Homo sapiens: one gene and its partners. The protein of the gene in region 1 purifies or fractionates together with the protein of each later gene. This does not show direct contact. Each region holds a gene or a part of one and is shown on either strand. Other genes may lie near its edges. The genes, in order: CLEC5A, CHCHD6, TSPAN6, PTRH2, CD276, TUBB1 and PIGU.

Region 1 (4,105 bases):
TGTGCATTGGGAAGATAGTTAGAAGAGTTTTAGAAAATAGTTAGAATACTAAGGATTTATGTTTAAGATGCTGAGTATCACGCTATTGAAATTACAAGCATTATCTTGCTCATTTCTCGGAACAATCCTATGTGGTATTTACTATAATTACTCCTATTTATAGATAAAGAAATGGAAGGTAAAGAGACTCAGTAACTTAATCAAGGATGTTCAGCTAGTGAAGGTCAGCTCCAGGAATCAAAAGCAGGACTGATTTTTAAAACTTTGTTCTTGTCCACCACACTTTACTAGAAGATTTGTGGTTATGCAATTGTTAAAGAAATAATATACTTTTACACCTGAATAAATAAATCATATAGTTTTACACCTGAATGCTATGCACATATTAAATAATACATTATCAAAATCTATATTTTGACATGAAAAGATATATATAACATAGTGTTAGCTTAATCTTGAGCAGATAGATTGCAAAACAATATGTACAATATGTTCCCATTGTTCTTTGTGAACCAGTGTTTTTCTGTCTATCTATCTATCTATCCATCTATCTTTCTATCTACCTACTCATCTCGAAAGGATACACCCTGAGGTGCTAGCAATGACTATAACTAAATGTACAAGGTTATAAATGGTTTTGTTTTCTCAATTTTCCTTGTTAATATTTTCCAGCCATTTTTTTGTCATGAGCACAGTAGTTTTCATAGTAGGGAAAATAAAAGCAAATTTTCAAATTTAACACGAAATTAAAAACTCCTTGACAATAGGACTTGAGTATTGTTCACCCCAGCCCACTGCTGTATCCAGCAGAGTGCCATGTTCAAGAAACACTGAAGAGCCACCATGAGGTCTGGAAGGTGAGCAGGTGGTGCCAGAGAGGAGTCCATGATAAAGGGGAATGAGCAGAGCTCCAGCAAATGGAGCAAATGGAACAGCAAGAACCTGCTCATTCATATTAGTGTCTTCAACTGGATTTCTTAACATTTTTAACTTGACATAATTTCAGACTTGCAGAAATGTTGTAAGGAAAGTACAAATAACTTCCAGCTACCTTTTATCCAGATTCAATGTTTGTTAAAATTTTACTACATTTCTCTTCCCACTGTATTTCAAGGAGATTTAGACACAGAGGAAGGGTGAATCTGTGTTGAGGTATTTTGTTTTCCAAATTGTCCTTAAAATGTTCCTCTGCATTAGAACTCTCCTGGCAGGAAGTCTGCTCTTGCCACCACTAGGGCTAGAGAGTCTCTTCCCTTCTTTGCCCCGCCTGCTCCCTTTGCCAAGAACCCCACTGAACAGGAAGAGGTATTTCTTGGGGATGCTACCAAGGCAGAGACTGTGAAGAAGGAAGAACGTTGCTTGGGCAAAAGGAGCATATTCTCAGGAGACGGGGCCCCTGCCTGCCACACCAAGCATTAGGCCACCAGGAAGACCCCCATCTGCAAGCAAGCCTAGCCTTCCAGGGAGAAAGAGGTGAGTCTGTCTGTCTGTCTTGGCTGCATGGACTGTTGACCAATGCCAAGACCTTCAGGGATGCCTGTCCTGTCTGTCACCTACCCCTGGTATTTGGAAGACTGAGGCTTCTGACAACTTAAGTCAGTATGGTGAAGGCTACAGACTAAGGTCCTTGGGAACAAGGGTCATTTCAAGGATAAGGGTTCTCAAAATACAGGAGAGGGTTTAATTATTAGACAGAATTTAGGAGGCCACAAATAGGGCAAGGCTGAGGCCTGGAGTAGGGAATGAGTGAAGGAGAGGCAGTATGCCAAGTTCCAAGGCTCCAATCAATACATGATTCTTTCTGTGTTCGCGGCCCACGCTGGGTCACCTCCTGGTACCTGTCAATGTCATGCCTGTCTTCCAAGCCTGCCTTGCTTTGGGTACTCTGAGCGAGAGGCTGGGATATGTCCTAGTGAAAAGCAGCCTTGTACCCGAATTCTGATGCTGCTGTGCTCTAATCTTCACAGGCCCCTGCAGCTCCTTCATCATGAACTGGCACATGATCATCTCTGGGCTTATTGTGGTAGTGCTTAAAGTTGTTGGAATGACCTTATTTCTACTTTATTGTGAGTATTTGAGCAACCTCTTGCCCCAGACTTCATGTTGTCTTGCTCATTGACTCTTCTCTCAGAATGCATGGTTGTGTGTAAAGGTTACATATCCAAGTCTTTCCACCTGAGACTAACTGACCCAACCTGAGGTCAATTGGCAATGCCTTTCTCACTCCCCAGCACACACAGTGGCCCAGGCTCCTTGGTCTACCTTGGAGATATAGAACTTACCAGTTTCTGATGGTTAGAACGCCACGCAAAGCTTTTGCTAGTAGAGTATTATTTGGGTGATCTCAGCTGAAGTACTTGGCAGCGCTTGTTATTGTTGGCAAAATCTAAAATACAGCTCCAGTTCAACCCAATGACAAGGCCATGGTAAGAGCTGAAGTATAATGTAACAGGATTTAACTGAGAAAGAAATTTCTCTTTGTATACATATAAATTAATTCATCCAAATGCCTAGTTAAAGAAGCCTCCTATGAAAGGATTTTACTGCAATCAGAAACTAGAATCTTCTCTAGCCCCAGAAGCCAGTAGGGAAAATAAATGAGGAAGGAAACGTGAGTGGGAGGCAGTAGTTAGCTAAGAGGTGTCTTCCTCATGATGCAATCTGAAGGTGCAATTCCTATCATGTCAGACAGCAGGACAGAAATATGAATAAGGGAACGTATTCACAAAACCACATTTATGCATCTTCACTGAGTCAGAGAGTTCAGTATTTCCCACTAATAGTCACAGTACCCTAGCAGCCCCTGTGCTGATACTTGTTTGTCATATTCATCATGCAGTCACATTTGGGGCTGAGCCAACAGCTGATTTTCTTTTCAGTCCCACAGATTTTTAACAAAAGTAACGATGGTTTCACCACCACCAGGAGCTATGGAACAGGTAATCTGCATGGTGGTAAATCTTCTCCCCATCCTCCTGCTACTTCTATGCTGAATTCCTAGAGACCTTCCACACAGCCTCCTTTCCCAAGAAATTCTTTTGTACAAAGGGTCCATAAAGATCTTCTAATTAATTCCCTTTCTTTTACATATGAGAAAACCAAGAGCAGACTGAGGGAAATTTCTGATCCTTAGTTTTTCTCCTGGATATGGGGATGATTTATATCTAATCATTGTAATAGAATGTGAAAGTGCTTAATAGCCAGTAGCTATGGGAGATAGAGAGATGAGTGGGGCATGGTTCTCCTCTCCCGATTAAACCAGCTTCCTTCTGAAGCCTTTCCCAACAACATCCTCTCACTTCCTCTTAAGACACCTATTACTACTGACATCGTTAGGAGAAAGACCGTTTCTCATTTATCTTAGTATCAACAGAGGCAACCCAATACAGTGAGCTGTATGGAGAAAATACTCATAAAATATGTATTGAGTCCTTAAGTTATAATCTCAAAGTAGTTTCTGATGAAAACCAGGCTATTACATCTTAGAGTCTATAAACGGGGTACTGAAATAAAAAGTGAATGCCAATTTGTTTCATTAAGATAAATGTAAGTAACTAATTTGATGTCAGAGTAAAGTGGTCTTCAACCACAATGGACAAATAACTGGCAGCCCAATTAGATGTTTGACCAGCCTCTGAAGCCACTGCGGCTGCCTGCTCAGACAGCCAGTGTTCCCAGGGAAATGAGGCCCCTATATGGATTTCTAGAAATGAATGGACCCTTCCCTGCTTATAGAAAATCTCCCTAAAGTTCACCTGCTTCCTTGTCTGATAATATCCCCTTGGCCCTGAAATTTTGTTCCAATTAGCTTCAATCCTTAGAGCTAATACAGTGCTGATGAGAAAAGAGTCCCAGAGTTGCCCAGGATTATGAATTTTCATACTGAATCTGGGACACCAGAAGTAGAAAGAACAGCAAAGATGCTGTGTGGAGCCTGGGCGAGAAGTACTCCAAACAGTCCTTTGGAGAAAACACTGTCAAAGGTTTATATACGATAGGAGTGTGAGAGTTTCTCTCTGATACTAAATTCCTCCATTACTTTTCCTTTCTTCTGTTCTTTTTCTCAGGATTTGATGCCTATGGCTACATCAAAAAAAGGAGACAT
Region 2 (3,500 bases), on another chromosome or scaffold:
CCACATTCTAAGATTTACTCTCCCTAATCGGTCTTAGCAAGAATAACTCACCTGGCCAGGTGTGGTGGCTCAATCCTGTAATCCCAGTGAATTTAGGAGGCTAAAGCAGGAGGATTGCTTGAAGTCAGGAGTTTGAGCCCAGTCTGGGCAACATAGTGAGACCCTGTCTCTACAAAAAAATTAAAAACGTTAACTGGGGGGTAGTAACACATGCCTGTAGTCCCAGCTGCTCAAGAGGCTGAGGTGGGAGGATTGCTTGAGCCCAGAAGTTGGAGTTTACAGTGAGTTATGATTGCACCACTGCACTCCAGCCTGGACCACATTGTGAGACCCAAAACCAAAAAAAAAAAAAAAAAAAAGAGGAAAAAAAGCCAACTATTAACCTGAACCCTGCTTTTTTGGTACTTTTAAACATTTTAAAAATGGTAAAGTAATGCCTGCTAATGAAAGATTTAGAAAATATACAAAGTGAAAAAATCACCCATAGACTCATCATCTCAAGACAACCACTGTTAATATTTTGGAGTATTTCATGTTCTTCTCCACCCAGTCCCCTCACCCCCCGTTTAGGGTTATTTTTTGAATGTCATAGATAATTTCATATCTTGCTATTTTCACTTAGTATTATAATGATTTGTCATTAGTTGCACCTGCTTTATAAGCAGTTTTATTGCTAAAAGCATTTATTGGTTCTCAGTTTTTAGATTCAACCTACAGACAAATGAAAGACTATTTTCTAGTGATGATGTCATAGATCATTATATGATCACACCATATTTTCTTTAGCTTGACCTTGATTTTGGGACATTTAGGTTGCTTGCATTTTTTTCACTACAATAAATAATACTGTTAAGAGCATCTCAGCACTAATAACTTTTTTATTCTCTATAGGATTATTTTACTAGGCAGAATGCCCAGAAATAGGTCAAAGGGTAGGAAGATATTCAGAATGAAGAGTTAAATGTTCAAAACAGAGGACTACTACCATCTCAAATCTTCAAGCTCTCAAGTGGAGGCAATCCGTGGATTGAGCCCCTCCCTGAGACTCTCACTGGGCATGGGGCTGCCTACTTGGCCAGGTCTCCTCCTGTTCCTGAGCTGTGTTGTCTTGGCTCAGTGTCATTGTCTCCTCTTGTCTGGGGAGCTGTCACTGATGCCTGAGCTTGGGTGTGGAATGATGGGGCATGCGGTTTCACAGCACTCTCTCCTTTCCTGACCAGCCGCTGGCTGGTTTCAGCATTTCCCTGGTGGCTGAAGTGAGTGCGCAGATCTTGTCTTGGCTATGGGCTGCCCGTCATGCCATCCACATCTGTTTCTCCTCATGTTTCTTCTGCACAGGTATGAACAGGAGCATGCTGCTATCCAGGATAAGCTCTTCCAGGTGGCAAAGAGGGAAAGAGAGGCTGCCACCAAGCACTCCAAGGCATCCCTGCCCACGGGCGAAGGCAGCATCAGCCATGAGGAGCAGAAGTCAGTCCGGCTGGTGAGTGCAGATTTTCCCTGATCTGGCCTTCTGAGCTGGGCAGCACCCTGGGAAATAGGGGGCGGGCCCTGGCACCTGGTTAGTCTGAAGCCCTGCTGGCTCAGGCTGCCCCTGGGATGTGCTCGGCTTCACCTCTGTGGAAAAGGGTCTTTTGGGAGCCAGGAACTGGGGTTCTCCCAGCCCTGGCTCTGTCAGTGATTTGCTTTGCTGCCTTTGGCATGTTTTTGCAGTCTCTGTGGCCTCAGGTCTACACAGTAAGGGACCAGACCACTCAACAGTCTCACTTAGCTCTGAAACTTCACAGATGTCAGGGCTGCAGTGGTATGTGTGTCAGGAGCGTGTGAGGGCAGAGGACTAGAGGCCTGGAGCCATGTAATATATGACAGGGAGGGCATCATCTTTAGAGTTAGGCAGGTTGGGTGCAAATCCTGGACACCCTGTCTGTGAGTCTTGCTTGAAGTTCGTGATGTTTACACACAGGACTGCCCAGGGAATCAGAGGAGATAGTATTTGTCCAGGACTTAGCACATGCTGGCAGACCATGGGAGTGCACTATTGTTGTTATCATTAATACATTTAAGTGATGGGTGGCTATTAGGATCTTTTTGCTTAAGTGCAGCATTTATTTTGCAACATGAGAAGTCTCAAGTGCCCCCAGGGTTGACTAATTCAGTGGCTCACTAGCATCATCATGGACCTGGTGCTTCTCTTCCTGCCACTCTGCCATCCACAGTGTGCCAGTGCATCCTAGGCAGGCTGTCCCCATGGTTAATGAAGGCTGTTACTGCCCCACAAGTCCCATGCAGACAGTAAAACCCTCAGTAGAAGAAGAGAGGCTGTGCCGACCCTTGTGTCTCTATCACAGGGATAACTTTCCTAGAAGCTCCTGGCAGAATTCCTCTTACATCACACTGGCTTGAATTGTACCAGGTGCCCATGGCTAAGCCAGTCCTCAGCAGAGGGGATACAGAGGGCTCCACTGACTGCAGCTAGGGCTCTTTTCTAGTCACATTAGGGAGGTTGCATATCCAGCTAGAATTAGGACTGACAGCAAGGAAGTTGGGGGAGGGAAGCATGGCTGTGGGCGGCATCTAATAACATCTGCTGGAGGCCATGAGGTTTGAGACCAGGAACAGCCTTGCACTACTTTAGGTGGGTAGCCTCGTACACACGGTGCTGTGTAGAAGGGGGTTGAACACGATGTGAAAGCATCATTTGGGATTGTGCTCTCCTGGGAGGCCAGACATGCTGGCTGGGCACAGGCCTTAGCTTACTAATTTGATGACTACACAAATGTTTGAAGTGTGCAGTAGGCACATAAATGCACTTTGAACCAGGCCCTCTGGGAAATACAAACAATGTAGGATCCTAGCCCTCGGGAAGTTTTAGTCTGTGGAGAAGACAAACTAAGAACTTTGAAAAAGGCCAGATTGGTTACAGTAGTTGTTAAATTGAAGAAAAGATTTGGAAATGCAAATGTATAAGCTGCTGGTGGATCAGAGCTGGTAGATCAGAGACGGCATTAAACTCAGCCTTAAGGCTGAGGGGCAGTTGGGCTGAGAGGCAGGTGTTGAGAAGGTGATCGGATCCAGTGAGAAGAGTGAGGTTTGAAGCTGGATTTTAGAAGGCCTTGGATGTGCTGAGGAGTTAACCCTCAAAGTAGCCCGCATCGATCCTGAAACAGTCAATGGTTCCTGAAGTTTGTAAGGATGGGAGTGATGAGATCTGACTTGTGCTTTTAGAACCCCATGGCATCCTGGTGAGGAATCGGTTGATGCAGTGAGAAACCGGGGCCAGGGCATGCCTTCAGAGGCTCTTGCAGTCAGTCTCTGAGAGGCAGATGGGTTGTTACCCCTCTGCAGGCAGCCTGACAACCAAGTAAGAAGGACCCCTATCCTGGAGATGACGCGTTAATCAGTATGGCATGAGCAGGAAAAGTTGGCCTCCTCTAGAGGTGGAAGATTACAACCTACAGGTCTGCTGTCTCTTCGTTCTCACCTGGAATGTATTAATTACA
Region 3 (3,500 bases), on another chromosome or scaffold:
ACATGTGCACCTGTTCTCTTCCTTCCCCACTTACATCATAGTCCAGGTACAGTTAGTACCAACTATAGCAGGAAAGTAAGGCCAATACAAAACTGTCATGCATGGTGCTAATCAGGGACCCAGTGCTCATCTCTTGAATCAATTGAGGAGAGAGATCATTGAGATTAGTAAATGTTTTGAGCACAAATTGCAATAGAGGATATTAGGTTAAATGTTTGACTACAAAGTTGTAATATAAACTGTAAATGCTTTTGTTGGGTTTTTCAGTTGCATTGTTGTGGTGTCACCGATTATAGAGATTGGACAGATACTAATTATTACTCAGAAAAAGGATTTCCTAAGAGTTGCTGTAAACTTGAAGATTGTACTCCACAGAGAGATGCAGACAAAGTAAACAATGAAGTAAGGTGCCTTTTAAAATTTTCTATTTGGCAATATTTGAAGACTTAACTGAATGCAAAATTGACCCAGTTTTTAATTTTTTTTTTGAGATAGAGTCTTGCTCTGTCGCCCAGGCTGGAGTGCAGTGGCGCGTTCTCGGCTCACTGCAAGCTCCGCCTTCCAGGTTCACGCCATTCTCCTGCCTCAGCCTCTCGAGTAGCTGGAACTACAGGTGCCCACCACCACGCCTGGCTAATTTTTTGTATTTTTTAGTAGAGACGGGGTTTCACTGTGTTAGCCAGGATGGTCTCAATCTCCTGACCTTGTGATCCACCTGACTTGGCCTCCCAAAGTGCTGGGATTACAGGCGTGAGCCACTGCACCTGGCCAGTTTTTAATTTTTAAATATAAGCTGAAATAGATAGGGCGGGTAAGAATTGAGTTCAGACGGCCAGCAAGTAACACTTTTTTGTTTATTTATTATTTAGTATTTTTTTTTAAAGACAGTGTCTCTCTCTGTCACCCAGTCTGAAGTACAGTGTTGTGATCATAGCTCACTGGAGCCTTGAACTCCTGGGTTCAAGTGAAGTAACACTTTTAAATATATAATCCAGAAGGTGGAAATAATTGGGAATAATTATTTGTTCTGTTGAGAACATATGGAAGAGAATAGATTTCAATAAAATGACAATCAAAGGCTATGATACATACATCTTTCTGCAGAGGTATATGATCAAAGTATTTATTACCATAAATATATCTTTCTGCAGAGTTATATGATCGAAGTATTTATTACCATAAAGAAAAGCACAGGCTGCTTGTGCTGTATTTAATCTTTGTTTTTTTCCTCCCATTAGGGTTGTTTTATAAAGGTGATGACCATTATAGAGTCAGAAATGGGAGTCGTTGCAGGAATTTCCTTTGGAGTTGCTTGCTTCCAAGTAAGTTTTTGTAGTTACTTAGGAAATATTTCATCCCTCTTGTAGGTGTAAGCTAGAAGATTTTCACTTTTTTTTTTTTGAGATGGAGTCTTGCTCGGTTGCCAGGCTGGAATGCAGTGGCGTCATCTCAGCTCCCTGCAACCTCCACTTCCTGGGTTCAAGCGATTCTCCCACCTCAGCCTCCTGAGTAGCTAGAATTACAGGTGTGCGCCACCATGCCTGGCTAATTTTTTTGTATTTTTAGTAGAGTTGGGGTTTCACCATGTTGGCCAGGCTGATCTTGAACACCTGACCTCAAGTGATCCGCCCTCCTCGGCCTCCCAAAGTGCTGGGATTACAGGCGTGAGCCACTGCATGCAGCGAGATTTTCACTTTTAAGGCTTATAAGTTTTTGCTTCAGGGGACTGGATAGTGAGGACATTTTTAGGGAAGTCGCATTTTCACAAAACTCTCAGTTACTGGTCACAGTATAAAAATACTTTATTTAGGAGAAATACCTAATGTAGATGATGGGTTGATGGGTGCAGCAAACCACCATGGCACGTGTATACCTATGTAACCTGCACGTTCTGCACATGTATCCCAGAACTTAAAGTATAATTAAAAAAAAGAAGAAAAAAAGTAAGATTTAGAATTAACTTGTAGCAGTGCATATCTTTTGAAAGCAGTTAACTGTGGAAAGACTCAGTGCCCTCTTAGTTATGGCAACTTTCCAGTATCATAGCTCATGAAACAAAACATTAGATAGGAACCTTGGTTCTCTCTGCGGTCAGTCAAGATTCTAAAATGTTATTAGGATCTTTTCTGGGCTGCAACTGCCTGATGAGTTGTATACAAGTTCCAACCTATTAAAATTTAGATGATGCCACCCCCACATTCCTTATGCACCAGTTGTTTGGGGTTGATTCCACGTTGTAGATCAAATTGTGTTTCCCAAGTTGTGTTTCCCACTGTAGCATGAAGTTTGTTTTGTGGCTCTGAACGTTTTTTTTTATATTAAACACTAGAAATAAGACTAATTCAAGTTTCGTCTTAATATATTTTTAAAGTAGTAAGCAAAGCTATATCTAAATCTATGCTAATGCAGTAGCCACTAGCCACCTTTGAATTGTTATAAATTATTAAATAAAATTAAAACCTCAGTTTGCTGGAGATTTGAAATACTTAGTAGCCATGTGGCTGCTGCCTACTATATCGGACAGTACAGGGATTCTAGAACATTTTCATTATTGTAGCATTGCTGTGGATCTTTCCAGGGAAATCTCTGCCCTCGTTGATGGAGATTTCACTTGTTAAGATACTTATTGAAAACCATGTATTTGTTTTTTCTGGGAAATGAGAGTAAGAAAAGTTTCTTCAAAACTCGTGACTGAATTTTCCTTGAGTGAGTTTGCTGGATTTTCCTTTGGTGAGAGTTGTGAAATTCTGGGTCACAGTGGCAATAAAACTTCACTTAGATTCTTTGAATGTGATCTAGATGCTGCAGAGTATTAAACATAACTCTAGAAAAACTCAAGGACGAAAATTATAAGCGAATTACAAGTGAGAGGAGAATATAGTCTGAGGTGTTCAAGTTCTTTTGTGTATGTATTTAATTTTGTTCCTATTTTATTTCTAGCTGATTGGAATCTTTCTCGCCTACTGCCTCTCTCGTGCCATAACAAATAACCAGTATGAGATAGTGTAACCCAATGTATCTGTGGGCCTATTCCTCTCTACCTTTAAGGTGCGTTCATTTTGGTCCTCAGCTCTGTTAGTGTTGATATTTATTCTAGCCTGTGTATGTGATGCATGGACTAAGTTTGCCAAGAACGTCTTGTCTAGTAATATATTTAAATCTAGCTGGTGCTATGTAAACCCTGTGTAGGCAGGTTAGGTCTCTATACACAGGGCATGGTCAGAAAGTAATGACTTAGCTACAGCTTATCTATGCATGCTCTCTACAGTTATGCAACAGAAGACTCCCCGTGTGGGTTTATATATTTACATACACATGTCAGCCTAAAGATCATAAGTGGTCCCTTTTTTAACATGTTTTGGCCTGGAGAGAGGAGAAACAAAGAATCCCAAGAATGACCTTATTCGTGAGGTTCCCTGGCAGGTGCACTCTGCTCCTCACCAATATTGACATTTTCCTTAGTCCTTTTCGTAGTTTTCATTTACCACAATCTTAATCAG
Region 4 (3,500 bases), on another chromosome or scaffold:
ATTTCCGCCTTTCTCTTCTCTACTCCATTTTAACTTCTGTCTGAGCTCCTTCCCTCAGGGGGAATACTTTCCTGCCTTCAAATCCGTGGACCTACTTGATTTAAAACTGAAATTGGGAAAGGTGTCCCTTTTCCTTTCCAAAACCACATCCCTTTATAAAGTCTTTCTCTATCTTGAGCATTTACCTGCCTTTCTTCTGGCTTCATCCTATTAACATTTAAATATGCTTATCCTTTCTTCTTAGGAGAAAAAAAAAATTGCTTTCCTCTGTGTCGCCTTATATCCATTGCTTTTTCTTTTTGCTCTATCTCTTGACCCCACCTCAAACGAATTTCTGCCCCACCAAAGACAGTAACCCCTTTTATGTTAAAATTAGTGGAAAGAATGTTAATATAATGCCCTAACTTTAAAGAAGAACATAAAGGAAATTTATAAGTACTTCCAGGGCTGTCATCTATGCCGTGCCAATCATGCAGTGCACAATTCCAAGGGCACCACTTTACATTACAAATACAGTGCATTACAAATATAGTGGCCCCATGTTTATAAATGCTTAGATAATACTCCACTAGAAAAAGAAACTGATAGTTGCTTGCCACATAGAAGCACTGTGAATCCAGCAGCCTCATTTGTAGACTGATATAAGTGTCTTATTGGTGACTCAAATATTATGAACAGCTTTGCCGAAGTAGCAAGATTTTCTAAAATAATAAAGGATGACATTCCTTTGTTTTATGATAGCTACACTTCTGGAAAATTCAGTATGGACAGTCTCCGACTTAGGATTTTTCAACTTTAGGATGGTGTGAAAGAGACACCCATTCAGTAGAAACTGTACTTCGAGTTTTGCATTTTGATCTTTTCCTGGCCTAGTGATAATGTGGTACAGTACACTCTTGTGATGCTGGGCAGCGGCAGCGAGCCACAGCTCCCAGTCACCCATGTGATCACGGGAATCAACAACCCATCCTCTACCGTGTACTGTGTTGTCAGCTTTTTTGGATATTGTGTTTTGTGTTTTCACATTCCATCATGTCTACAAAATGTCCATCAGTGTCTCCTGTTTCTGGTGAGATGAAGAAGAGGAAGGCAATTACTCTTGAAATGAAACTCAAGATAATTGCCCAGCATGAAGGTGGCAAGCCAGTAATGGCCATTGCACGTGAGTTAGGACTTTGGCAATCCACGATTTCAACCATCTTAAGGGATAAGAAGCAAATCAGTGATGCAGCGAAATCGTCAGCATCAGTTAAATCCACTGTCATCACAAAGAAAAGGGCTGGACCAATTGATGATATGGAAAAATTACTTGTTATGTGGATGGAAGACCAGATACAGAAGCGTATACCACTTAGCCTACTGATGATCCAGGCTAAGGCAAGAAGTCTTTTTAATATGCTAAAAGACCGTGCCAGTGATCCTACATATACACAAATGTTTAAAGCAAGTCATGGATGGTTCCAGCGCTTCAAAAGGCGTCATAATTTTCACAATGTAAAGATCACTGGTGAGGCAGCACGTGCTGGTAATGAAGGTGCCATAGCTTTTAAGGAACAGCTGCATAGGATAATTATGGCTAAAGATCTTTGCAATAAGGAGCTGATTGCACTGGAGGAAGAAAGAGGTAAAGGCGTTGAGGCAGTGGAAGAAGTTACACCCACGGCACCTAGAAAGTTCACAGCAAAGAAACTGGCAGAGGCATTTGCTGCTATCAGCAGTGGCCTACACGTTAGAAGAAATGGACGTCAATTACGAGAGATTCGCCACAGTTGACAGGCGCAGATACAGGATGCTCTTGCTTGCTACAGAGAAATATATAGTGAAAAGAAGAAACAAGCTGTACGGTCAAAACTTGGTATCTTCCTGAAGAACAACACTATGCTTGCTAAACCATCAACTAGTGTTGATGTCCCAATGCCTTCTACCACCTATTCTCGATGTTCATCAGAAGAGAGAGAAATTGAGGACCCTGTTGCATCCCCATCATCCAGCAATTAATTCTATTTCAGTGCTTCAAACATTTTTCAGGACCACTGTGCTTTCAGCTGTGTAAATTAATGGTGAGTACCCATACAACCATTGTTTTCCACTTACAGTATTCAATAAATTACAGGAGATATTCAACACTATTATAAAAGAGCCTCGTGTTAGATGATTTTTGTCCAACTGTAGGCTAATGTAAGTGTTCTGAGCACATTTAAGGTAGGCTAGGCTAAGTCATGATATTCTGTAGGTGTATTAAATGCATTTTTGGCTTACAGTATTTTCAATTAATTGGGTTAATTGGGATATAACCCCATGGAAAATTGAGGAGCACCTGTACATAGTAAAACTATGCAAAAAATATTTTGTGTTCTTAAGTAAAATGATGTTGAGTTCTCATCTCAGTTATTAAGTTTTTCAGCTGCACTCACGTCCAATGGGACAACTCTTCATTTTGTAAGGTTTTTAGCATCCTTGCTCAGGCTTAGTAAATTTCAGTAGTGCACCTCACTCCAGGCCCATTAATGTGACAGTGAGGTTCTTCTGAGGGTAACTGATTTGATACCATCTCCACTGAGAACCACTGCATTGTGAAAACACCGATTAGCACTGTATTCCAGGAAAGGGTTATTTTTGGTTTCTTTAAATCTTAGGCATCTTGGTAAAACGGAACATCTCCACAAGACTAAGGGAAGACTGAGGAATAGAGTTTTTGAACTTTATGCAACTTCGTTTACATCAAGATTCAAAATGACCTAAACTGTTTCATGTGGATGCTTGAATCTTTTCTAGTACACTGGTGGTGGGCAAGAGGGTGTTGGAAACAGGGTGCAGGCATAAGATCAAAGGTGTGTTTTGCCTTTTTTCTGGATGACCATTAAGTGTATAGTCAAAATGTTTCTCTGATAAGCCTATACCTCTGTAAGTTGTTACTGCCGGATAGTGATAACTGTTTTCCTTTCCTTTAAGATGCCCTCCAAATCCTTGGTTATGGAATATTTGGCTCATCCCAGTACACTCGGCTTGGCTGTTGGAGTTGCTTGTGGCATGTGCCTGGGCTGGAGCCTTCGAGTATGCTTTGGGATGCTCCCCAAAAGCAAGACGAGCAAGACACACACAGATACTGAAAGTGAAGCAAGCATCTTGGGAGACAGCGGGGAGTACAAGATGATTCTTGTGGTTCGAAATGACTTAAAGATGGGAAAAGGGAAAGTGGCTGCCCAGTGCTCTCATGCTGCTGTTTCAGCCTACAAGCAGATTCAAAGAAGAAATCCTGAAATGCTCAAACAATGGGAATACTGTGGCCAGCCCAAGGTGGTGGTCAAAGCTCCTGATGAAGAAACCCTGATTGCATTATTGGCCCATGCAAAAATGCTGGGACTGACTGTAAGTTTAATTCAAGATGCTGGACGTACTCAGATTGCACCAGGCTCTCAAACTGTCCTAGGGATTGGGCCAGGACCAGCAGACCTAATTGACAAAGTCACTGGTCACCTAAAACTTTACTAGGTGGACTT
Region 5 (3,316 bases), on another chromosome or scaffold:
TGTCCCTGGCGCACAGTGGGTGGTTAGTAAATGTCCATAGTCATTATTGGGCCTATTGTTATAATGTCAGTGATGACATTTGGAAATACAGGAGATAGGTCATTTCCTTCCTGTTTTTCAGAATCAAATAACCATAGAAGAGCTGGGCAGATGGAGATAAAAAGTGTCAGCTTAGGCCAGGCATGGTACTTCACACCTGTAATCTCAGCACTTTGGGAGGCCGAGGTGGGTGGATCACTTGAGGTCAGGAGTTTGAGACCAGCCTGGCCAACATGGTGAAACCCTGTCTCTACTAAAAATACAAAACTTAGCCGGGCGTGGTGGTGCATGCCTGTAATCCCAGCTACTTGGGAAGCTGAGGCGGGAGAATCACTTGAACCTGGGAGGCAGAGGTTGCAGTGAACTGAGATTGCACCTGTGCACTCCAGCCTGGGCAACAGAGCAAGATTCCATCTCAAAAAAAAAAAAAAAAAAAAGTCAGCTTGGTTTTGAAGAGTTGCTGGAGAATGTGGCCTGGATGGGCAAACCAGTTTGCTTCCTAACCCTGCTCCTTGGTGAGGCAGCCTGCCCCCTCAGTCTCTGGCCATGCTGGACAACCACAGAGGCAGTGCCCAGATGGGGGAGCTCTTCTCCTCTCCCCAGGGACATACAGAGCCCCAAGAATGGGTGAGGGAGAGGGCAGGGGAAGGGCCCAAGCCCTTCTTCCCAAGTCTCCATTCAGCTTCAGATGCAGAGTGGGGTCTGAAAGATGAGTCTTTGGGATGGCCCTCCACATGGAGACAGGAAGCCCAAGGGAAGGAGGAGGGCCCCTGCCGTGTCACTCTCAGGGAAACCAGTGTGGAGGGGACACTGGGAAGGCTGCCTGCTGGACGAGGGAGTTGGGCCAGGCCTTGGAGGGTGGATGGGATGGACAAACAGGAGATGAGAAGGGAAAAGTGTTGCACGTAGAGGGAGAGTGGAGGGAAGTGTATCGGGCTGTGGGCCTGTGGGTACTGAGAGGGGGCTGCGTGAGGTGGTCCCCCTCAGGTGCCCCGGCGTGCCTGGCACCTGCATCTGTGTCTGGGCCTCCAGGGCCGTGGTCAGCACGGGGGCTGTCCGTTGGGCTGCTGTCTCACACACACTCCCCACTTGAAGTCTGACCAGGTGCTTGGGCTTCTGGCATAATCCCAAAAATAGATCTTCTGGCATCTAATGCTTTTCCCTTCCCTTTTTTTTCTTCCCATCATGAAATGAAGATGATGGACAAGAAATAGCCTGACCATGAGGACCAGGGAGCTGCTACCCCTCCCTACAGCTCCTACCCTCTGGCTGCAATGGGGCTGCACTGTGAGCCCTGCCCCCAACAGATGCATCCTGCTCTGACAGGTGGGCTCCTTCTCCAAAGGATGCGATACACAGACCACTGTGCAGCCTTATTTCTCCAATGGACATGATTCCCAAGTCATCCTGCTGCCTTTTTTCTTATAGACACAATGAACAGACCACCCACAACCTTAGTTCTCTAAGTCATCCTGCCTGCTGCCTTATTTCACAGTACATACATTTCTTAGGGACACAGTACACTGACCACATCACCACCCTCTTCTTCCAGTGCTGCGTGGACCATCTGGCTGCCTTTTTTCTCCAAAAGATGCAATATTCAGACTGACTGACCCCCTGCCTTATTTCACCAAAGACACGATGCATAGTCACCCCGGCCTTGTTTCTCCAATGGCCGTGATACACTAGTGATCATGTTCAGCCCTGCTTCCACCTGCATAGAATCTTTTCTTCTCAGACAGGGACAGTGCGGCCTCAACATCTCCTGGAGTCTAGAAGCTGTTTCCTTTCCCCTCCTTCCTCCTCTTGCTCTAGCCTTAATACTGGCCTTTTCCCTCCCTGCCCCAAGTGAAGACAGGGCACTCTGCGCCCACCACATGCACAGCTGTGCATGGAGACCTGCAGGTGCACGTGCTGGAACACGTGTGGTTCCCCCCTGGCCCAGCCTCCTCTGCAGTGCCCCTCTCCCCTGCCCATCCTCCCCACGGAAGCATGTGCTGGTCACACTGGTTCTCCAGGGGTCTGTGATGGGGCCCCTGGGGGTCAGCTTCTGTCCCTCTGCCTTCTCACCTCTTTGTTCCTTTCTTTTCATGTATCCATTCAGTTGATGTTTATTGAGCAACTACAGATGTCAGCACTGTGTTAGGTGCTGGGGGCCCTGCGTGGGAAGATAAAGTTCCTCCCTCAAGGACTCCCCATCCAGCTGGGAGACAGACAACTAACTACACTGCACCCTGCGGTTTGCAGGGGGCTCCTGCCTGGCTCCCTGCTCCACACCTCCTCTGTGGCTCAAGGCTTCCTGGATACCTCACCCCCATCCCACCCATAATTCTTACCCAGAGCATGGGGTTGGGGCGGAAACCTGGAGAGAGGGACATAGCCCCTCGCCACGGCTAGAGAATCTGGTGGTGTCCAAAATGTCTGTCCAGGTGTGGGCAGGTGGGCAGGCACCAAGGCCCTCTGGACCTTTCATAGCAGCAGAAAAGGCAGAGCCTGGGGCAGGGCAGGGCCAGGAATGCTTTGGGGACACCGAGGGGACTGCCCCCCACCCCCACCATGGTGCTATTCTGGGGCTGGGGCAGTCTTTTCCTGGCTTGCCTCTGGCCAGCTCCTGGCCTCTGGTAGAGTGAGACTTCAGACGTTCTGATGCCTTCCGGATGTCATCTCTCCCTGCCCCAGGAATGGAAGATGTGAGGACTTCTAATTTAAATGTGGGACTCGGAGGGATTTTGTAAACTGGGGGTATATTTTGGGGAAAATAAATGTCTTTGTAAAAAGCTTTTTCTCTGTGAAGTGTTTGGAAGCAGGGTGGGCCCCAGGACTCAACCAGCAGGATTCTCTCCTGGATGTTGCAGGCTGGGGTAGGGAAGCCTGGCCCTCCTTATCTCACCGTCCTTAAATCACTGGATCCCCAAGGCCATTTGGCTCCCTCCTTGGCTTCAGTTTCCCTCTGGGTAAAGTGAAGTTGGTTGTCCAGAAAGCCAGGCCCTTTGGTCACTGTATGGGGCTCCTCCCACTGGAAGCATCACTCAATTTCTTTGCCTCAGAAAACTCAAACCTAGGCTTGTTTAGGGCCTCTACTAATGAACCCATTTTAGAGACTGTGAAGCTGAGACCCAGTAAGAAGCTGGCACCAGGAAAAGAGTTCTGAATGCTGTTTCTGGCTGACTCAATTGGATGGGCACCAGGCCAGGGATCAGAGGTCCATTCCCAGGACATAGTTCTGCCCTATGACCCTGAGCAGGACATTTACCTTCTCTGAGCCTTGGCTTTCTTG
Region 6 (2,363 bases), on another chromosome or scaffold:
TCTCACAGTTAATGTCCCTTATCTTCTGGCTCCATTTCTGCCTCCTCCGTGACCTCTTCATCTTCCTCTAGAACTGCTTTGGCATCTTGAAATTGTTGGTACTCGGATACCAAATCATGGATGTTATTTTCAGCTTCCCCAAATTCGTTTATGTCCATCCCTTCGCTGGTGTACCAGTGCACAAAAGCTTTCCTTTTGAACATGGCTGAGAAATGCTCAGAGACCCTATTAAAGATCTCTTGGATGGCCGTGTTGTTGCCAATGAAGGTGGCGGCCATGCTCAGCCCCCGGGGCGGGATGTCGCAGACAGCCACCTTGACGTTGTTGGGAATCCACTCCACAAAGCAGCTGCTGTTCCTGGTCTGCACGGAGAGCAGTTGCTGGTCCACTTCCTTGGTGGACATCTTGCCCCGGAAAATGCAGGCCACTGTGAGGTAGCGGCCACGGCGGAGGTCACAGGCAGCCATGGTATTGCGGGCATCGAACATCTGCTGGGTGAGCTCGGCCACGGAGAGGGCTCGGTACTGCTGGCTGCCCTGGGCCGTGAGTGGGGCAAAGCCGGGCATAAAGAAGTGCAGGCGGGGGAAGGGGACCATGTTCACCGCCAGCTTGCGCAGGTCTGCGTTGAGCTGACCCGGGAACCGGAGGGAGGTGGTTATGCCGCTCATGGTCAAGGACACTAGGTGGTTGAGATCCCCATAGGTGGGTGTCGTCAGCTTCAGGGTACGGAAGCAGATGTCATAGAGGGCCTCATTGTCAATGCAGAAACAGGCATCTGCATTCTCAATCAGCTGGTGGATAGACAGAACCGCGTTGTAGGGCTCCACCACAGTGTCCGACACCTTGGGAGAAGGCATGACGCTGAAGGAATTCATGATCCGGTCCGGGTACTCCTCTCTAATCTTGTTCATGAGCAGAGTGCCCATCCCGGAGCCTGTGCCCCCGCCCAGGGAGTGGACGATCTGGAAGCCCTGCAGGCAGTCACAGCTCTCACTCTCGTGCCTCACCACCTCTAGGACATTCTCGATCAGCTCGGCTCCCTCCGTGTAGTGGCCTTTGGCCCAGTTGTTGCCAGCCCCAGAGTTACCTGTGGCCAAAAAGAGAAACCAGCAGGGGAAGAAAGGTGAAAAGAGAAGGGCACCAGTAAAGCATCCCCCCCTCCTCCTGGTGGAACCTTCTGGAAAAACATACCATGGACAAAACTGTCGGGTTGAAAGAGAGCTCCTAATTTGCTAGATCGAATGCTGTCCATCGTCCCAGGTTCTAGGTCCACCAAGACTGCTCGGGGCACATATTTCCTACCTGTGTAGAAAAATAGGAAAAAGTCAGCCTACTTGTTTTTCTAAAAGTTAATGTTTTATCAAAATAGAACTTTGTGATACTGGTCCAAAAAAAATCATGGATATTCTAGAAAGGGGCCCTTGGTAGGTCGAGATTTGAGTATCTAACATCATATTTTTTACCCCAACAACAATCCCACAAATCTATAGAATACCCAGAAACAATCTCCATCAGTCTGCTCTGTGATATTGCCAGTGACAGAGATTCTCTTCCTTCATATTGGAAATGATCCTGGTTTCATTTGTGAAACCACAAAGGAAAGTGAGTACTTAACCTGCTTGTGTTAAGGTGTGTGCCATATCCAGCAGCTCCTTCCCCATTCCTGCGTCTTGACCAGGGCTTGGGGACCCACCACTCTAGGATCCTGCTGCCCTGCCTGTCGCCTCCCTGAGCATAGACATCACTGCTTTGACATTTCCATCTCCTGGGCCTCTGCCCTTCCTCTGCTTGTGTTCCCAGTTGCGGGACCACTGCTCCCAGAGCCCCGCCAGTCCTACCGTAGGCTTCGTTGTAGTACACGCTGATTCTCTCCAGCTGCAAGGCCGAGGCCCCGCGGTCGCTCCCAGCCAAGTCGATCCCGTGTTCCTCACCAATCATCTCCCAGAACTGAAAGCAGGAGGAAGGTCAGAGTAAACGGACCCCGAAAAAGGCTGTGTTAACCACAGAGAAAGTTAGCATTCCCAAGCCTGTTTCCCTCTGGTTGCCTGACCCTCCCCAAGACATTCTTTTAGGGCCTTTTCATAAATAACCATGGCATCATTCGCTTTTTGCCTCTACTAAGCAATGTGAAGTAATATGAAGATTGCATTTTCTCCCCACCTGAACTCCTTAAATAAAATGTCAAACACAAAGTACTAAATTGGATTTTCCTCCTATTAAATTCATGCCATTATATACATTAAAGCTGTTGTTTTAGAATTTAATGTCAATATAGCTCTAATTTCTCCTTATAATGCTCCAAGCTAGTAAAGTGTAGATTCCATTAAAGGAAAATAAACTGAATTCTTATCTGATTTCACAGT
Region 7 (3,500 bases), on another chromosome or scaffold:
GCAGTGGTGCAATCTTGGCTCACTGCAGCCTCCACCTCCTGGGCTCAAGCCACCCTCCCACCTCAGTCTCCCAGGTAGCTGGGACTACAGGCACACGCCACCATACCCACCTAATTTTTGTATTTCTTTTTTGTAGAGGTGGGGTTTCACCATGTTATCCAGGCTGGTCTCAAACTCCTAAGCTCAAGTGATCTGCCCACCTCAGCCTGCCAAAGTGCTGGGATTACAGGCTTGAGCCACCATGCCCAGCAACCCTGATTCTCATAGCTGTAGTAGGGGTGGGTTTCTAGATAAGTACTAATAGCTTGGGCTCTACCCTGAACTCAAAAAGCTAAGCCTATACGAACTGTCAATCTTTGGGTGAAAGCCTCAGGAAAGACTAAAACATGGCAGAAAGTTTCTAACATTATTCCTGACAGATATCTAAACAAGATGATACTGGTGGAACAGCCATACCTAAAGATTGCTAGCTCTTCATACAAAATATTATTAGCGAGGTCACCTTGGGCAAATGACTTAATCTCTCCATGCCTCAATTTTCTCATTTATAAAATGGGGTTGATAACAGTTTGCCATTTTAGAGATCAAATTAGTGCATTAACACACCTAAAGTGCTTAGAACAATACCAGGCATGTAAAAAGCATCATATCATTGTTAATTTCTTTCTTTTCTTCTTCCTTTTTTTTTGAGACGGAGTTTTGCTCGTTGCCCAGGCTGGAGTGCAATGGCGCGATCTCGGCTCACCGCAACCTCTGCCCCCCGGGTTCAAGTGATTCTCCTGCCTCAACCTCCCAAGTAGCTGGGATTACAGTCATGCACCACCACGTCCGGCTAATTTTGTATTTTTTTAGTAGAGACAGGGTTTCTCCATGTCGGTCAGGCTAGTCCCGAACTCCTGACCTCAGGTGATCCACCCACCTCGGCCTCCCAAGTGCTGGGATTACAGGCGTTAGCCACCGTGCCCAGCCTGTTAATTTCTTATTAATTTTTTAGAAGCTCCTGCTTTTGTCAAACAGGAAATTCATTCCTTAAAAATTTATTTCTTGGCCGGGCGCAGTGGCTCACACCTGTAATCCACCACTTTGGGAGGCCAAGGCAGGTGGATCACCTGAGATCAGGAGTTTGAGACCAGACTGACTAACATGGTGAAACCCCATCTCTACTAAAAACACAAAATTAGCCAGGTGTGGTGGCTCATGCCTGTAATCTCAGCTACTCAGGAGGCTAAGACAGGAGAATGAATCGTTTGAACCTGAGAGGCAGAGGTTTCAGTGAGCTGAGATTGTGCCATTGCACTCCAGCCAGGGCAACAAGAGTGAAACTCCTTCTCAAAAAAAAAAAAATTTTCTTTTTTTATAAGGCAGAGTCTCACTCTGTCACCTAGGATGGAATGCAGTGGCACGATCTCGGCTCACTGCACCCTCCACCTCTGCCTCCCGGGCCCATGCAATCCTCCTGCCTTAGCGTCCCGAGTAGCTGAGACTACAGGTATGGGCCAAACATGTCCAGCTAATTTTTGTATTTTTTTGTAGAGACAGAGTTTTGCCATGTTGCCCAGGCTGGTCTCAAACTCCTGGGCTCAAGTGATCCTCCCGCCTCGGCCTCCCAAAGTGCTGGGATTACAGGCATGAGCCACAAAACCCGGCCTGGAAATTTATATGTATTTTAGTTACACTATCAAATAAACCGATGGATTTGTAGAAATAGGTAACAGAAAAGATATTTTTCCTGTTGAAATGGATATGTTATTTGTGCCTGCCCAACATCAATCTTCCCTTCTTTTGGTAACAGCACCCTAATTTTTCCTATGGGATACCCCCCTTGTGTACATTTTGGGTGAGACTGCCTCCTTTCCAAAGAGGTAGATACATGACCCAGGCAGACTACAGTAATTGACCGAAGAATTGGTATATGACCCAAATCAGTTCAATGTGACTTAATTCCAGAGCTTTCGTTGCACTTATTCAAAAAAAAAGAGGTCAGGCATGGTGGCTCATGCCTATAATCCCAGCACTTTGGGAGGCCAAGGCAGAAGGATCGCTTGAGGCCAGGAGCTTAAGACCAGCCTAGGCAATATATTGAGACCCCATCTCTACAAAAAACAATAAAAAACAATTAGCAAAGTGTGGGAGCATGCACCAATCCCAGCTGTTTGGGAGGCTGAGTCAAGAGGATCTCTTGAGCCCAGAAGGATGAGGCTGCAGAGAATTATGATCATGCCGCTGCACTCCAGCCTGGGAGACAGAGTGGGACCCTGTCTCTCAAAAAAAAAAAAAAAAAAAAAAAATCAGTCCATACTATAGCCAATCAAAATCTATTTGGATTTGGATCCAGGGCCCCTTTACCCAAAGAACTGATCATTCAAAAATTTAAAATGTCAGCCCGGCGTGGTGGCTCACGCCTGTCATCCCAGCACTTTGGAAGGCCGAGGCGGGTGGATCACGAGGTCAGGAGATCGAGACCATCCTGGCTAACATGGTGAAACCCCGTCTCTACTAAAAATACAAAAAATTAACCGGGTGTGGTGGCGGGTGCCTGTAGTCCCAGCTACTCGGGAGGCTGAGGCAGGAGAATGGCGTAAACCCGGGAGGCGGAGCTTGCAGTGAGCTGAGATTGCACCACTGCACTCCAGCCTGGGTGACAGAGTGAGACTCCGTCTCAAAAAAAAAAAAAAAAAAAATGTAAAATGTCATGTGAAACCAGAAGGAGTCCTACTTTACTATTTTTAAATTCCTGCCTTTTAGGGTTTATATAATCAGCTGCTTTAAAAAATATCCCATTTAAGGTACCCTTTGAAGAAAAGTAATGCTTACAGATGTTGTACCTTCCCTCCCAAATGATACAAATAATCATGCTGATTTAGTCAGATCCAGATGATGGGTGGTTAACAAATCTCTCTCTCTTTCTAGTCCTGACACTGGCCTCAAGCTCCAGACCTAAACCTGTCAGTATTGTACTATCACATTATACACACATGAAACACTACTATGTCCTTTCTGATTCATCTATTTCAGCCCATGTCAGCACTATTTTTCCTAATATCTCAACTCAAAACCTTAGAATTCACCTTTTTGGCTTTCATTATTGTGTTGAGCTTCAACATGGATTATCTCGTTGAACAGGATACATAATTTCCTATTTTACAGATGGAAACACTGACGTTAGAATTCATACAGCTTGGCCGGGCGTGGTGGCTCACGCCTGTAATCCCAGCACTTTGGGAGGCCAAGGCGGGCGGATCACGAGGTCAGGAGATCAAGACCAGCCTGGCTAATATGGTGAAACCTCGTGTCTACTAAAAATACAAAAATTAGCCAGGCATGGTGGCATGTGCCTGTAGTCCCAGCTACTTGGGAGGCTGAGGCAGAAGAATCGCTTGAACCTGGGAGGCAGAGGTTGCAGTGAGCCAAGATCATGCCACTACACTCCAGCCTGGGCAACAGACTGAGACTCCATCTCAAAAACAACAACAACAAAAAAAGCTTGGCGCAGTGGCTCA

What was found.
Region 2: the proteins of CLEC5A (region 1) and CHCHD6 purify together in Homo sapiens (affinity purification with mass spectrometry; 3 studies listed by BioGRID and IntAct, with this or other methods). This does not show direct contact.
Region 3: the proteins of CLEC5A (region 1) and TSPAN6 purify together in Homo sapiens (affinity purification with mass spectrometry; 3 studies listed by BioGRID and IntAct, with this or other methods). This does not show direct contact.
Region 4: the proteins of CLEC5A (region 1) and PTRH2 purify together in Homo sapiens (affinity purification with mass spectrometry; 3 studies listed by BioGRID and IntAct, with this or other methods). This does not show direct contact.
Region 5: the proteins of CLEC5A (region 1) and CD276 purify together in Homo sapiens (affinity purification with mass spectrometry; 3 studies listed by BioGRID and IntAct, with this or other methods). This does not show direct contact.
Region 6: the proteins of CLEC5A (region 1) and TUBB1 purify together in Homo sapiens (affinity purification with mass spectrometry; 3 studies listed by BioGRID and IntAct, with this or other methods). This does not show direct contact.
Region 7: the proteins of CLEC5A (region 1) and PIGU purify together in Homo sapiens (affinity purification with mass spectrometry; 2 studies listed by BioGRID and IntAct, with this or other methods). This does not show direct contact.

Annotation. Positions count from the first base shown.
Region 1 is NC_000007.14:141,944,175-141,948,279, reverse strand, and holds the start of CLEC5A (C-type lectin domain family 5 member A), read left to right. Parts: upstream 1-1,305; 5' UTR 1,306-1,473; intron 1,474-1,967; 5' UTR 1,968-1,987; coding exon 1,988-2,066; intron 2,067-2,879; coding exon 2,880-2,939; intron 2,940-4,105.
Region 2 is NC_000003.12:126,731,740-126,735,239, forward strand, and holds part of CHCHD6 (MICOS complex subunit MIC25), read left to right. Parts: intron 1-1,338; coding exon 1,339-1,483; intron 1,484-3,500. UniProt on the Homo sapiens protein: Component of the MICOS complex, a large protein complex of the mitochondrial inner membrane that plays crucial roles in the maintenance of crista junctions, inner membrane architecture, and formation of contact sites to the outer membrane.
Region 3 is NC_000023.11:100,630,307-100,633,806, reverse strand, and holds part of TSPAN6 (tetraspanin-6), read left to right. Parts: intron 1-267; coding exon 268-402; intron 403-1,238; coding exon 1,239-1,322; intron 1,323-2,940; coding exon 2,941-3,009; 3' UTR 3,010-3,048; intron 3,049-3,500.
Region 4 is NC_000017.11:59,697,431-59,700,930, reverse strand, and holds part of PTRH2 (peptidyl-tRNA hydrolase 2, mitochondrial isoform b precursor), read left to right. Parts: intron 1-741; exon of another isoform or gene 742-2,057; coding exon of another isoform or gene 2,058-2,060; intron 2,061-2,952; coding exon 2,953-3,492; 3' UTR 3,493-3,500. UniProt on the Homo sapiens protein: Peptidyl-tRNA hydrolase which releases tRNAs from the ribosome during protein synthesis. Promotes caspase-independent apoptosis by regulating the function of two transcriptional regulators, AES and TLE1.
Region 5 is NC_000015.10:73,711,699-73,715,014, forward strand, and holds the end of CD276 (CD276 antigen isoform a precursor), read left to right. Parts: intron 1-1,235; coding exon 1,236-1,258; 3' UTR 1,259-2,816; downstream 2,817-3,316. UniProt on the Homo sapiens protein: May participate in the regulation of T-cell-mediated immune response. May play a protective role in tumor cells by inhibiting natural-killer mediated cell lysis as well as a role of marker for detection of neuroblastoma cells.
Region 6 is NC_000020.11:59,022,429-59,024,791, reverse strand, and holds part of TUBB1 (tubulin beta-1 chain), read right to left. Parts: intron 1,948-2,363; coding exon 1,839-1,947; intron 1,303-1,838; coding exon 1,192-1,302; intron 1,088-1,191; coding exon 9-1,087; 3' UTR 1-8. UniProt on the Homo sapiens protein: Tubulin is the major constituent of microtubules, a cylinder consisting of laterally associated linear protofilaments composed of alpha- and beta-tubulin heterodimers.
Region 7 is NC_000020.11:34,670,593-34,674,092, forward strand, and holds part of PIGU (GPI-anchor transamidase component PIGU), read right to left. Parts: intron 1-3,500. UniProt on the Homo sapiens protein: Component of the glycosylphosphatidylinositol-anchor (GPI-anchor) transamidase (GPI-T) complex that catalyzes the formation of the linkage between a proprotein and a GPI-anchor and participates in GPI anchored protein biosynthesis.